2 separate regions of the Homo sapiens genome follow, and region 2 is linked to region 1. The links come from fine-mapping of genetic effects on gene expression. Tissue or cell type: whole blood. Region 1 holds a variant in brackets; the other region holds the start of a gene. All regions are shown on one strand. Distances are between the middles of the regions.

Region 1 (5,148 bases):
GGTTGGAGGGGAGGAGAGGATGCTGCGGGGCAGAGCTGTCTGCTGGGTTGTGAGGGGAGAGATGAGAGGCAGCCAGACAGCAGCCACAGTCATCCTCAGGGAAAGGAGCCATCCTCCCTCTTCCTCTCGCCCCCAACTTCTGGATTATGGGATGGCTGCTGGTGCCGGTCTGTGGGCTGCCTCCCAGGGAGCTGTCCTCCCCTCCCCATCCTTGCTGCCAGGGACTTGCCCATCGAGGACCAGATCTCCCTGCTGAAGGGGGCCGCTTTCGAGCTGTGTCAACTGAGATTCAACACAGTGTTCAACGCGGAGACTGGAACCTGGGAGTGTGGCCGGCTGTCCTACTGCTTGGAAGACACTGCAGGTGCCCGAGAGAGCCTGCCTGCCCTGGCAGAGGGAGGGAAACACTGCAGTTATGGGAGGAAGGGAGCTACGCCAGGATATGCAGGTTCTGGGATGGCAGGGCAGGAAGATGGAATGGTGGAAAACAAGATATTGGTGAGGGATGATTAGATCTTGGTCAGCTTGCTGAGAAGCTGCCCCTCCATCCTGTTACCATCCACAGGTGGCTTCCAGCAACTTCTACTGGAGCCCATGCTGAAATTCCACTACATGCTGAAGAAGCTGCAGCTGCATGAGGAGGAGTATGTGCTGATGCAGGCCATCTCCCTCTTCTCCCCAGGTGAGGATCTCCCCTAGGCTGCCTGACATCCCCCCCAGCCTTATCTGCCCTCCCCAGGGAAGGTCCCAGTCTATGGCCTTGCTCCTCATTCACTGCGCAGCCAGGATGGGGGCTCTCGCTGGTTTCTCCTGGGGTCAGTGGGTGATGCCCAGCCCTGGTCTTCCTTCACTTCCCTGCCTGGGTGACTCCAGCTCTGGAGGGTGGTTGGCGAGCAATGCCCTGACTCTGGGCTGGACTGAGCTTGTCTTTGCCCCATGATCTTGCACCACACCTCCCTCCCCTCCAGACCGCCCAGGTGTGCTGCAGCACCGCGTGGTGGACCAGCTGCAGGAGCAATTCGCCATTACTCTGAAGTCCTACATTGAATGCAATCGGCCCCAGCCTGCTCATAGGTGAGCACAGCAGGGGGTGAGGACCCGTGAGGGTGATGTGAGGGAGCCGAGGTTCAGGGAAATTGCCCAAGACTTCATGGCCAGAGGGTGGCATCTGGAGGTAGCCCCAGCCAGACCAGGTCCAAAGCTCACACTTTTGAGCACTACCTAACCACTTCCCAGGAAAAACACAAGCAAACAGGGGGACGTGGCCCAGAAAGGGGCTTCTATACCTTCACTGGTCCTCAGTAGCTCCTGTGACCTACTGCCCAGACTGATGCCCACAGACCCAGAGACAAACTTGGATTTTACGGAGCCCAAGGCCATGAAGGGTTAAGGCCAACACTGAGTATTATAGTGTGAACCTATAAACTGAAATCCTTATTTGGCCTGCACAGCTTTCTTTTTGGCTTGGTGTCCTGGGATGCTGGGAGTGGCCATGTCTTTATTTGCTCAACCCTTCCTTGTATGGAGGCAGGAGGCTGGAAGTGCCAACTTTCTTTTCCATCATGGGGATACTGAGGCATATGGTACATCTCAGACACTAGATCCAAAGCTAGTTCCAGGAAGGGATTCCAGCCTGCAGCCCCTAACCTCCACAACGACTCTGCTCAGTCCTGGCCCCTGGACATTAACGAAGGCAGTGACAGCCCCACACCCCCAAACTGGTAGCTGCAATATCTACATTTTCCCACGGAAGTCTCTGTGTACAAAGATGCAACTCCCGCAGCTGGGTGTCGTGGCTCACACCTATAATCCCAGCACTTTGAGAGGTCAAGACAGGAGGATCCCTTGGGGCCAGGAGTTCAAAACCAGCCTAGGCAACATAGCCAGACCCCAACTCTAGAAAAATTTTAAAAAATTAGCCAGGTATGGTGGCATGTGCTCTAGTCCTAGCTACCCAGGAGGCTGAGGCTGGAGGTCTCTTGAGTCCAGGAGTTTGACACTGCAGTGAGTCCATGATCGTGCCATCATGCTCTAGCCTGGGTGACAGAACGAGATCCTGTCCCTTTAAAGAAAAAAAAAAAAAAAAGACACAGCTCCCATGAATGGGATGGGAGTGGGGAGAGTATTGGGCAGGCTGTTCTGCCTTTCTCATCTACAGGGTAAAAGAGAAGCTTACGGAATTCAGCCAAGCCTTGTCTCTTGGCTGACCTGAAATGTCCAGAGATTATGCTTGTGCAGCCTCAGAGCAGCCCTGAGGCTTGTGGGTCAGGGCGGGCTGCACCCACAATCTTTTCTCTGGCTGGCATGCAGGTTCTTGTTCCTGAAGATCATGGCTATGCTCACCGAGCTCCGCAGCATCAATGCTCAGCACACCCAGCGGCTGCTGCGCATCCAGGACATACACCCCTTTGCTACGCCCCTCATGCAGGAGTTGTTCGGCATCACAGGTAGCTGAGCGGCTGCCCTTGGGTGACACCTCCGAGAGGCAGCCAGACCCAGAGCCCTCTGAGCCGCCACTCCCGGGCCAAGACAGATGGACACTGCCAAGAGCCGACAATGCCCTGCTGGCCTGTCTCCCTAGGGAATTCCTGCTATGACAGCTGGCTAGCATTCCTCAGGAAGGACATGGGTGCCCCCCACCCCCAGTTCAGTCTGTAGGGAGTGAAGCCACAGACTCTTACGTGGAGAGTGCACTGACCTGTAGGTCAGGACCATCAGAGAGGCAAGGTTGCCCTTTCCTTTTAAAAGGCCCTGTGGTCTGGGGAGAAATCCCTCAGATCCCACTAAAGTGTCAAGGTGTGGAAGGGACCAAGCGACCAAGGAT[G/A]GGCCATCTGGGGTCTATGCCCACATACCCACGTTTGTTCGCTTCCTGAGTCTTTTCATTGCTACCTCTAATAGTCCTGTCTCCCACTTCCCACTCGTTCCCCTCCTCTTCCGAGCTGCTTTGTGGGCTCCAGGCCTGTACTCATCGGCAGGCGCATGAGTATCTGTGGGAGTCCTCTAGAGAGATGAGAAGCCAGGAGGCCTGCACCAAATGTCAGAAGCTTGGCATGACCTCATTCCGGCCACATCATTCTGTGTCTCTGCATCCATTTGAACACATTATTAAGCACCGATAATAGGTAGCCTGCTGTGGGGTATACAGCATTGACTCAGATATAGATCCTGAGCTCACAGAGTTTATAGTTAAAAAAACAAACAGAAACACAAACGATTTGGATCAAAAGGAGAAATGATAAGTGACAAAAGCAGCACAAGGAATTTCCCTGTGTGGATGCTGAGCTGTGATGGCGGGCACTGGGTACCCAAGTGAAGGTTCCCAAGGACATGAGTCTGTAGGAGCAAGGGCACAAACTGCAGCTGTGAGTGCGTGTGTGTGATTTGGTGTAGGTAGGTCTGTTTGCCACTTGATGGGGCCTGGGTTTGTTCCTGGGGCTGGAATGCTGGGTATGCTCTGTGACAAGGCTACGCTGACAATCAGTTAAACACACCGGAGAAGAACCATTTACATGCACCTTATATTTCTGTGTACACATCTATTCTCAAAGCTAAAGGGTATGAAAGTGCCTGCCTTGTTTATAGCCACTTGTGAGTAAAAATTTTTTTGCATTTTCACAAATTATACTTTATATAAGGCATTCCACACCTAAGAACTAGTTTTGGGAAATGTAGCCCTGGGTTTAATGTCAAATCAAGGCAAAAGGAATTAAATAATGTACTTTTGGCTAGAGGGGTAAACTTTTTTGGCTTTTTTCTGGGGAAAATAATGTGGGGGTGTGGAAATAGAAACATACGCAAGCATACATATTTTTACTACTTATTTTATTATTATCCTGTATAAATCTGAAGACTCCGGCGTAAGAACATAAAAATGAATTATTTAACTTGGCTTACTTATAAAATGATTGTTCTGTATAAAAGTTTAACATATGTGCATACCATAATTAAAATGTAGTCCGGGCGAGGTGGCTCAGGCCTGTAATCCCAGCACTTTGGGAGGCCAAGGCTGGCGGATCACAAGGTCAGAAGATCGAGACCATCCTGGCTAACACAGTGAAACCCCGTCTCTACTAAAAATACAAAAAATTAGCCAGGTGTGGTGCTGGGCACGTGTAGTCTCAGCTACTTGGGAGGCCGTGGCGGGAGAATCACTTGAACCAGGCAGGCGGAGGTTGCAGTGAGCTGAGATCGTGCCACTGCACTCCAGCCTGGGGGAAAGAGCGAGACTCTGTCTCAAAAAAAAAAAAAAGTAGGAATTAATTTTAAATGTCTAATATTTCATTCAAATGAAACTTCACAGTAACTGAATTTTAAAGAACAGATAATTACTTAGCTTTTGACATTTTACAAGAAGCAGGCCAAACTTTGAGAACATGGTAAATCATCAGTAATATAAATCAAAGCAAGTAAACATATTCTGTCATCCCTCTGACTTTACCAGATTTTTCTGCATTAAGGAGATATAGGGAGCACTTATTTTTAGAAAAGATACTGAGGGAAAAAAAGAGCTTCTCTTTCCAAACTCAATGAATGCAGCTTTTGCTCCCAGGAATTTTAATTATGAATCCATTTATAATTAGAAATACAAATTTCTAATTTGGAAAGATAGATTTCACTCCAGTGTATTCATAAATCATATGCATCTCCCTTTCCTTACTGAAATGATTCGAGTGCTATTTGTTCAAGAGCCTGAAACTGTTGTAAGCTGTAGGACAGGGTAAGGTGAGGTTAAGATGGAATGGAGGGCAAATTTCCATCTCCCAGTCTTGATTTAAAAACTCCAGGGTAGTTCTCCAAACATTGAATTGATATGTACATATAATTTATATAGATTATAAAAACTAAATGTATTTCAAGAGTGAAGAAAGATTCAATGTTAGATGCCCTGAAGAGTTCACATAGGGTACTTCCTTTCAGTAGGTCTGTGGATCACAAGTTTATGGGACTAGAAGCCAGATTTTAACCTTCCTACTCCAACATTTGAGTTTCTTCTTTACTCCCTTCCCTGAACTTTTGAGTAAACAGAACTAAGCATCAGTTTTTAGGCATCCTTGTGACCACTTTTTTTTTTTTTTTTTTTTTCTGGGTCAGTGAGGAGAGGATGGAGTCAGTCTCCAAAGCTCAGGGCAAAAGACCTAAGCAAGCTAC
Region 2 (5,148 bases), 280 kb after region 1:
TTATAAGATTTGTATCATCATAGCTGAAAATTACCCCGGAATTTTAAAATATTTTTCAAATCACTCCATGAAGTGCTTAGAAAGCACGACCCTTCCCTGAAAGATGCATAATCAGCTTTCCTCTTTACCTACCCGGGCATTCTCTACTTGCAAGCCACAAGAAAAAAAAAAAATTAACTTTCAAAAATTATCTCCCATTCAGCTATTACCTAGACTACCCTGTTTCAGGCTAGTTCCCAAAGCCAACATGAATTGAAATCTTGAGTTCAACTAAAAGTGATCATTTTATGTTGCCTAAGAATATAATCAATTTCACATAACATCATGTTTTGCGTGTGTGTGGGTTCTTAAAATCTCAGTTCTTTAGTTCTCTCAGTTCTTCTAGGCAACAAATTAATTTGTCTTTGCCCTCATGATGCCCCTCTTTCCCACAATAAGGAAACAATATAGATATTTTTGTTAAATTCTGCAAGTATGTTTAAACAAGCTATCATTAAATACCACATGAACTTCTCCATAAATAGAGATACACTGGAACATTAGATACTTAGTATATATTAAACACTTCAAGAGCATACTTTTCAGCACAAACCCAGGACAAGAGTAGTCTATCCACAACCCTGAACACAGCCCAAATATCCCTATTATTTCTAGGACCATAGCCATCTGCAAAAGCCAAAATGGAAAGGACTAAATCCACATTCTTCTAACTAAATCCACAGTTATCTAAATATGATGGAAACTAACGCTAGAGTGTTTTAAATCGTCCTTTTTAAGGAACCCGCCAGAACATTTAACAGGTAATGAATGCAGTAGCACTCCAAAATTGAACTTAAATGTAATGAGCCAGTGACAACATTTAACTTAGTATTTGGCACTATGACAAAACAAATCTCAATCAAAACTTGGACCTATTAATACTTCCAAGTTAACTTTTGATTAAACATAAATTATACGGTGGCAGGTTGGTAATGTCAAAACAGGAAGGTTAAGAGATAACACATCAAACCACTTATCCAATTGAACACAAATGCATACAGAGATGTTACTGCTGCTAGGTATTTATTGGCTCCCACTAGTCCCTTCTAAAGAGAGAAATCAATGGCAGCCTCCAAATGTGAATGGTTACTGAGGAAGTTCATCCACAGATTAAGAACAAATATTATGTGTAGTCATACAAACAAGAAAAAAATGTTGGGAGGGTGGGACATTTAACGTCTCTATTAAGTATATCAAACTATGATAACCCCTGAGACCTAAAATATTCTCTCATTCCAAATTCCAAAAATTCTGCAAATGTGCATAATGGTTTAGTAATCAAATCTTGTCCTTCTCTTTATTCTAAAGGATGGGCAAGTAAACACTGTCATCACTACTTTAACGTGGAAACACTCGAGCACTTGATGAAACTGACTACCAACAGCAAGAAAAGTACAAGAAAGCAGTTTGAAATCGAATCATCCAAATAAATATCATATTATCTCAATTCAAGGTTAATGAGACCGGGGGAGGGGGTATGGGAGGAGTAAAAAGGGAGCTGCTTCATCCTTGACTGAAGATAGGTTTTGCCCTTTTCCATTGCCTGTTTATCAGGAGGTCTAATAATTTCAGATCCTGGTATTTCGAGGTTTCTTATTTTAAGGGCGAGGTGGAAAAGGGGTGTAAAATAAAACCAATACTCACTGCTAACTTTCATGCTGCCAAAAGCTGAAGGCTGCTGCACCGGCTTGCAGCTCTCCGCAAAGGAGGTGGTTCTGGGCCGCCCTGACATGATCACTCTCTTCGCGAATCACCTTTTCCTTCCTTCCTCCTTTTCTTCCTTTTGTCTTTATGTTGGGGTGTTAGGTTAACGATAAATGCAGCATTAAGTTCTCCCACAGAAGAAAAAGAAAAAGACTTCGTCCTCTTGGCTTTTCACTCCTTTTGTATACTATAAAAAACAAAACAAGCGATATATTTCTCCTTCAAGACAGATCGGCACGGATATTTAACATATAGATGATTTAGGACTTGGGAAAAAATACAATTCTTTCCCCTCCCTTTCCTGGGAGGAGAGAAAAGAGAGGGCAAATCCTAAAAAAATATGTATCACGTGAAACGGGGGCAAATACTTGATTGAAAATGAGTACTTCGAATATTATATTTTCCTCGGGGATTTTTTTTCCGAGTCAATGAAGAAGGGAAGCGGCGGAAGGATCACGAGTCTCACGCTTGAAGAGAAAGGGGGATGGGTAGGAGGGAGGGAGAGGGAGGGAGGGGGTGGCTCGGAGATGCGACGGGAAACGCTGCAGCTCCGGCAAGCCGCGGGATCCGGCGGGCTGACGGCAGGGGCCCGGCGAACTAGAGGGCGGCGGAGTCGCGAGTCAGTCAGAGGCGGGCGGTGGCGGTGGCGGCGGCTCCTCTCCTCATTGCGCCAGGAGCAGCTGCAGGCGGCGGCTGGATCCAGCGGCCATGGCGGTGGCGGAGGCAGCTCCCTTCAGACCCCAGGCAGCGGCTCCTCGACTGTTCCCCATTCGCCGGGGACATGGGAACCCGGCAACCGCTTCCGTCCCTCGGGGCCCCCTCCCCCGTCCGCGGCAACAGCTCGGCCGCCCTCCCGCCCCTCGGCTCTGCTCGGTGCCCGCTCAGGAAGTGTCCGCGCTTTGCCCCAGCCCAGAGCCCTGTCAGCGGCTGCGGGGCCGGCTCCTCCTCGCTTCCTTCCTTCCTTTGTCACTTGGCCCGGGCGGCGGCGGCGGCGGCGGCGGCACAAGCCCGCATTCGCCCGGGTCAGGAGCTGCTCTGTGTGAGGAGCGCTGTCTGCGCAGCCGCCTTGCACTTCCCCACTCCTCCTCCCCCCTCCTACTCGTCCTCCACCTCCTTCCTCCCCCACCCAGCCTTACACCGCCCAGCGCCCCGCCGCCCGCGTAACAGGCGTCTGGGAATCGCCGGCCGAGCCCCACGCTCGCCCGCTTCGGCTGGGAGCCGAAGCCCGAACGGAGCCAATCACGGACGTCGTTTGTTTGCGGCTCCTCCCGGAAAAAGCCGATCAGCCTGAGAAACCAATTAGAAAGTGACGCTGGGAAGCCACGCCCAAAGAGCGGAAAATGCCGAAGGTAGCCGAACGGAAAGGGTGAATTCGCCTTGTTCGGTGGCTGGCTGGAGGAGACATTCGACAATGGCAACAGTGGCCAATCAGAGTCGCCGGCCCTTACGAAGAGGCTTGAAGAGTTGAGGACGGTGAAACCCAGAGACGCTGGTGAAACTGCACGGCTGGGCGCCGCCGCCGCTTTGTGATTGGCTGGAAAACTCCGCTGGGAGCGTACCTCCTTCGGTGATTGGTGAAGAGAAGGGGGCTTCCGAGGACAGTCTGGCCAGTCAGGACTTCCCCTCCCTCTCCAAGGTGGGGAGAAGAAAGCGAAGGGAGGGCGTCTATAAAGCGCTGTCTCATTGGCCTGAAGCTTAGGCGCTGGAGTTGGGGCAAAAGGGAGAGGGAGGGAGCCCGAAACTCGCGGCGGCGGCCAATCGGCTCTCACTGCCGTCCAATCGCAAGACCTAGCTGCAGTGTGATTGGCCTTCGGCCCCGGTCCCAGGAGCGGGGAGATGCCTGACTCGGGTCGTGGCTGACGACCCGACGGTTCGCCTGCGGCCGCCTCCAACAACGGTGGAAACCGCACACAGGGACCGCGGGCCCTCGGTGCAGCAAATCGGAAAGTGCTGCGGTCGGCGGCCCTGGGCTCTGAGCGCTCAAGCGAGCAGAGGGGTGGAGGGGCTCTCCCCACCCACAGGAGGCTCTCGGCGGGGCGCAGCCAATTCTGCGCGCCCAAGGCTCCCCTCTGCCGTGGATCGCGTGTGCCGAGTGTTGGCCTCTTCCCCGAAAGGGCCAGACGGACCAAGGGGGCCTTCCCAGCCGGCTGCAAGCTCTCAGACGCTAAAATGGGAACAAAGCTTCCAGAAAGGCAGCGCCTTTGGGCGGCCGCGCCCCGCCCAGCCGCGGGGGCCATTGATACAGAGGCTTGCTGCGCTTGGTGTGCGCGGCCCGGCCGGGCCTCTGGAAACGCCCATGAGAAATGAGCTCATGCTGGATGCGCGCGCTCCTTGGGCGCAACTGCCCAGCGCAAAACGGGCCCCGAAAGCAGGTGAGGGGAAATGCCGTCAGGCCGGATATCCTGAAGCCTCCGAGGAAATGGGGGGGTCAGAGGAGCCCGTGGTAGCTTTGGATCTTTTGGAACTAGGGTGATCTATAAAAGTGCAGCTTGAGAAGATTTCATACATAAGACCAGCGTCCATTGTTCTACCATAGAACCAGTTCCTTTGGTCTGCTTTAGAACAGTGAGGTATGGCTACGTCAAGATAACAGAGAAAGTAGAACAGACAGTTGCCATCCTGATTGTAATCCAGTGGTGCCTGTAATTTCTACCTGCAGAGTCATCTCTTTCTGTTAAGATGCTGTCTCCAGAAAGCACATGTTAAAGGACCTATATTTGATCAGATTACCTGGCTCTTGCTTTGAAACACTGATGAAGGACTTGGGACAGAACAAAGTAAGCTTTGATGGAAGACAGGAAAGGTCTAGATAGTGTTTGCAGATTCAAATGGCTACAGAGGCCAGACAAGTAAAGCAAATGAGTGAGACTGGCCTTGTGTAAGACAATGGGGAATGATAGGGAAAATGGCAAATTGGAATATCCATGCCATAACTAAAAGGAACAGCTGCTCAACTCTAGCAGATTGTTGCCCTCAGGAATGTGGGTCCAGTGTTCTCAGATGTTCAATTTTTTTCCTCCCAAAAGAAACCCCAAAATTGGATTTTTGTGTGAAATCTCTGCATTTTTAAATGTTGGTAACCAAATTTTCAAACCCTGCAGGCCAACCTAAAAACATCCCTTGGCCAATGAGGCATTGGAAAAAGTGTTAATAATTGTTAGGGGCCCGATAGCAGTAGGAGGGTGAAAACAAAATGGTTTGGGACCTTAAATAATTGAAATGTATCTTTATTTATTTATTTATTTTTGAGACGGAGTTTCACTCTTGTTGCCCAGGCTGGAGTGCAGTGGCGCGATCTCGGCTCACCGCAACCTCCGCCTCCCCGATTCAAGTGATTCTCCTGCCTCAGCCTCCCAAGTAGTTGGGATCACAGGCATGTGCCACCATGCCAGCTACTTTTGTATT

What was found. PIP is the estimated chance that this variant, and not a neighbour inherited with it, causes the effect.
Region 2: it holds the start of GSK3B, and the variant in region 1 is fine-mapped to the expression of GSK3B in whole blood (TOPMed, PIP 0.93).

Annotation. Positions count from the first base shown.
Region 1 is chr3:119,814,758-119,819,905 of GRCh38, forward strand. NR1I2 (nuclear receptor subfamily 1 group I member 2) reads left to right here. Exons shown (of 9, transcript NM_003889.4): 6 at 222-364; 7 at 566-682; 8 at 969-1,074; 9 at 2,311-3,730. The coding sequence ends at 2,455. Among named protein-coding and RNA genes, the nearest start is that of NR1I2, 35 kb to the left of the region's middle. RefSeq lists an enhancer at 907-1,407. The variant G/A (reference allele first, on the strand shown) is at 2,825.
Region 2 is chr3:120,091,664-120,096,811 of GRCh38, forward strand. GSK3B (glycogen synthase kinase 3 beta) reads right to left here and starts at 2,784. Exons shown (of 11, transcript NM_001146156.2): 1 at 1,684-2,784. The coding sequence starts at 1,771. It overlaps GSK3B-DT (GSK3B divergent transcript), which reads left to right and starts at 3,441. Exons shown (of 3, transcript NR_186629.1): 1 at 3,441-4,115. RefSeq lists enhancers at 2,963-3,372, 2,999-3,293, 3,573-3,892.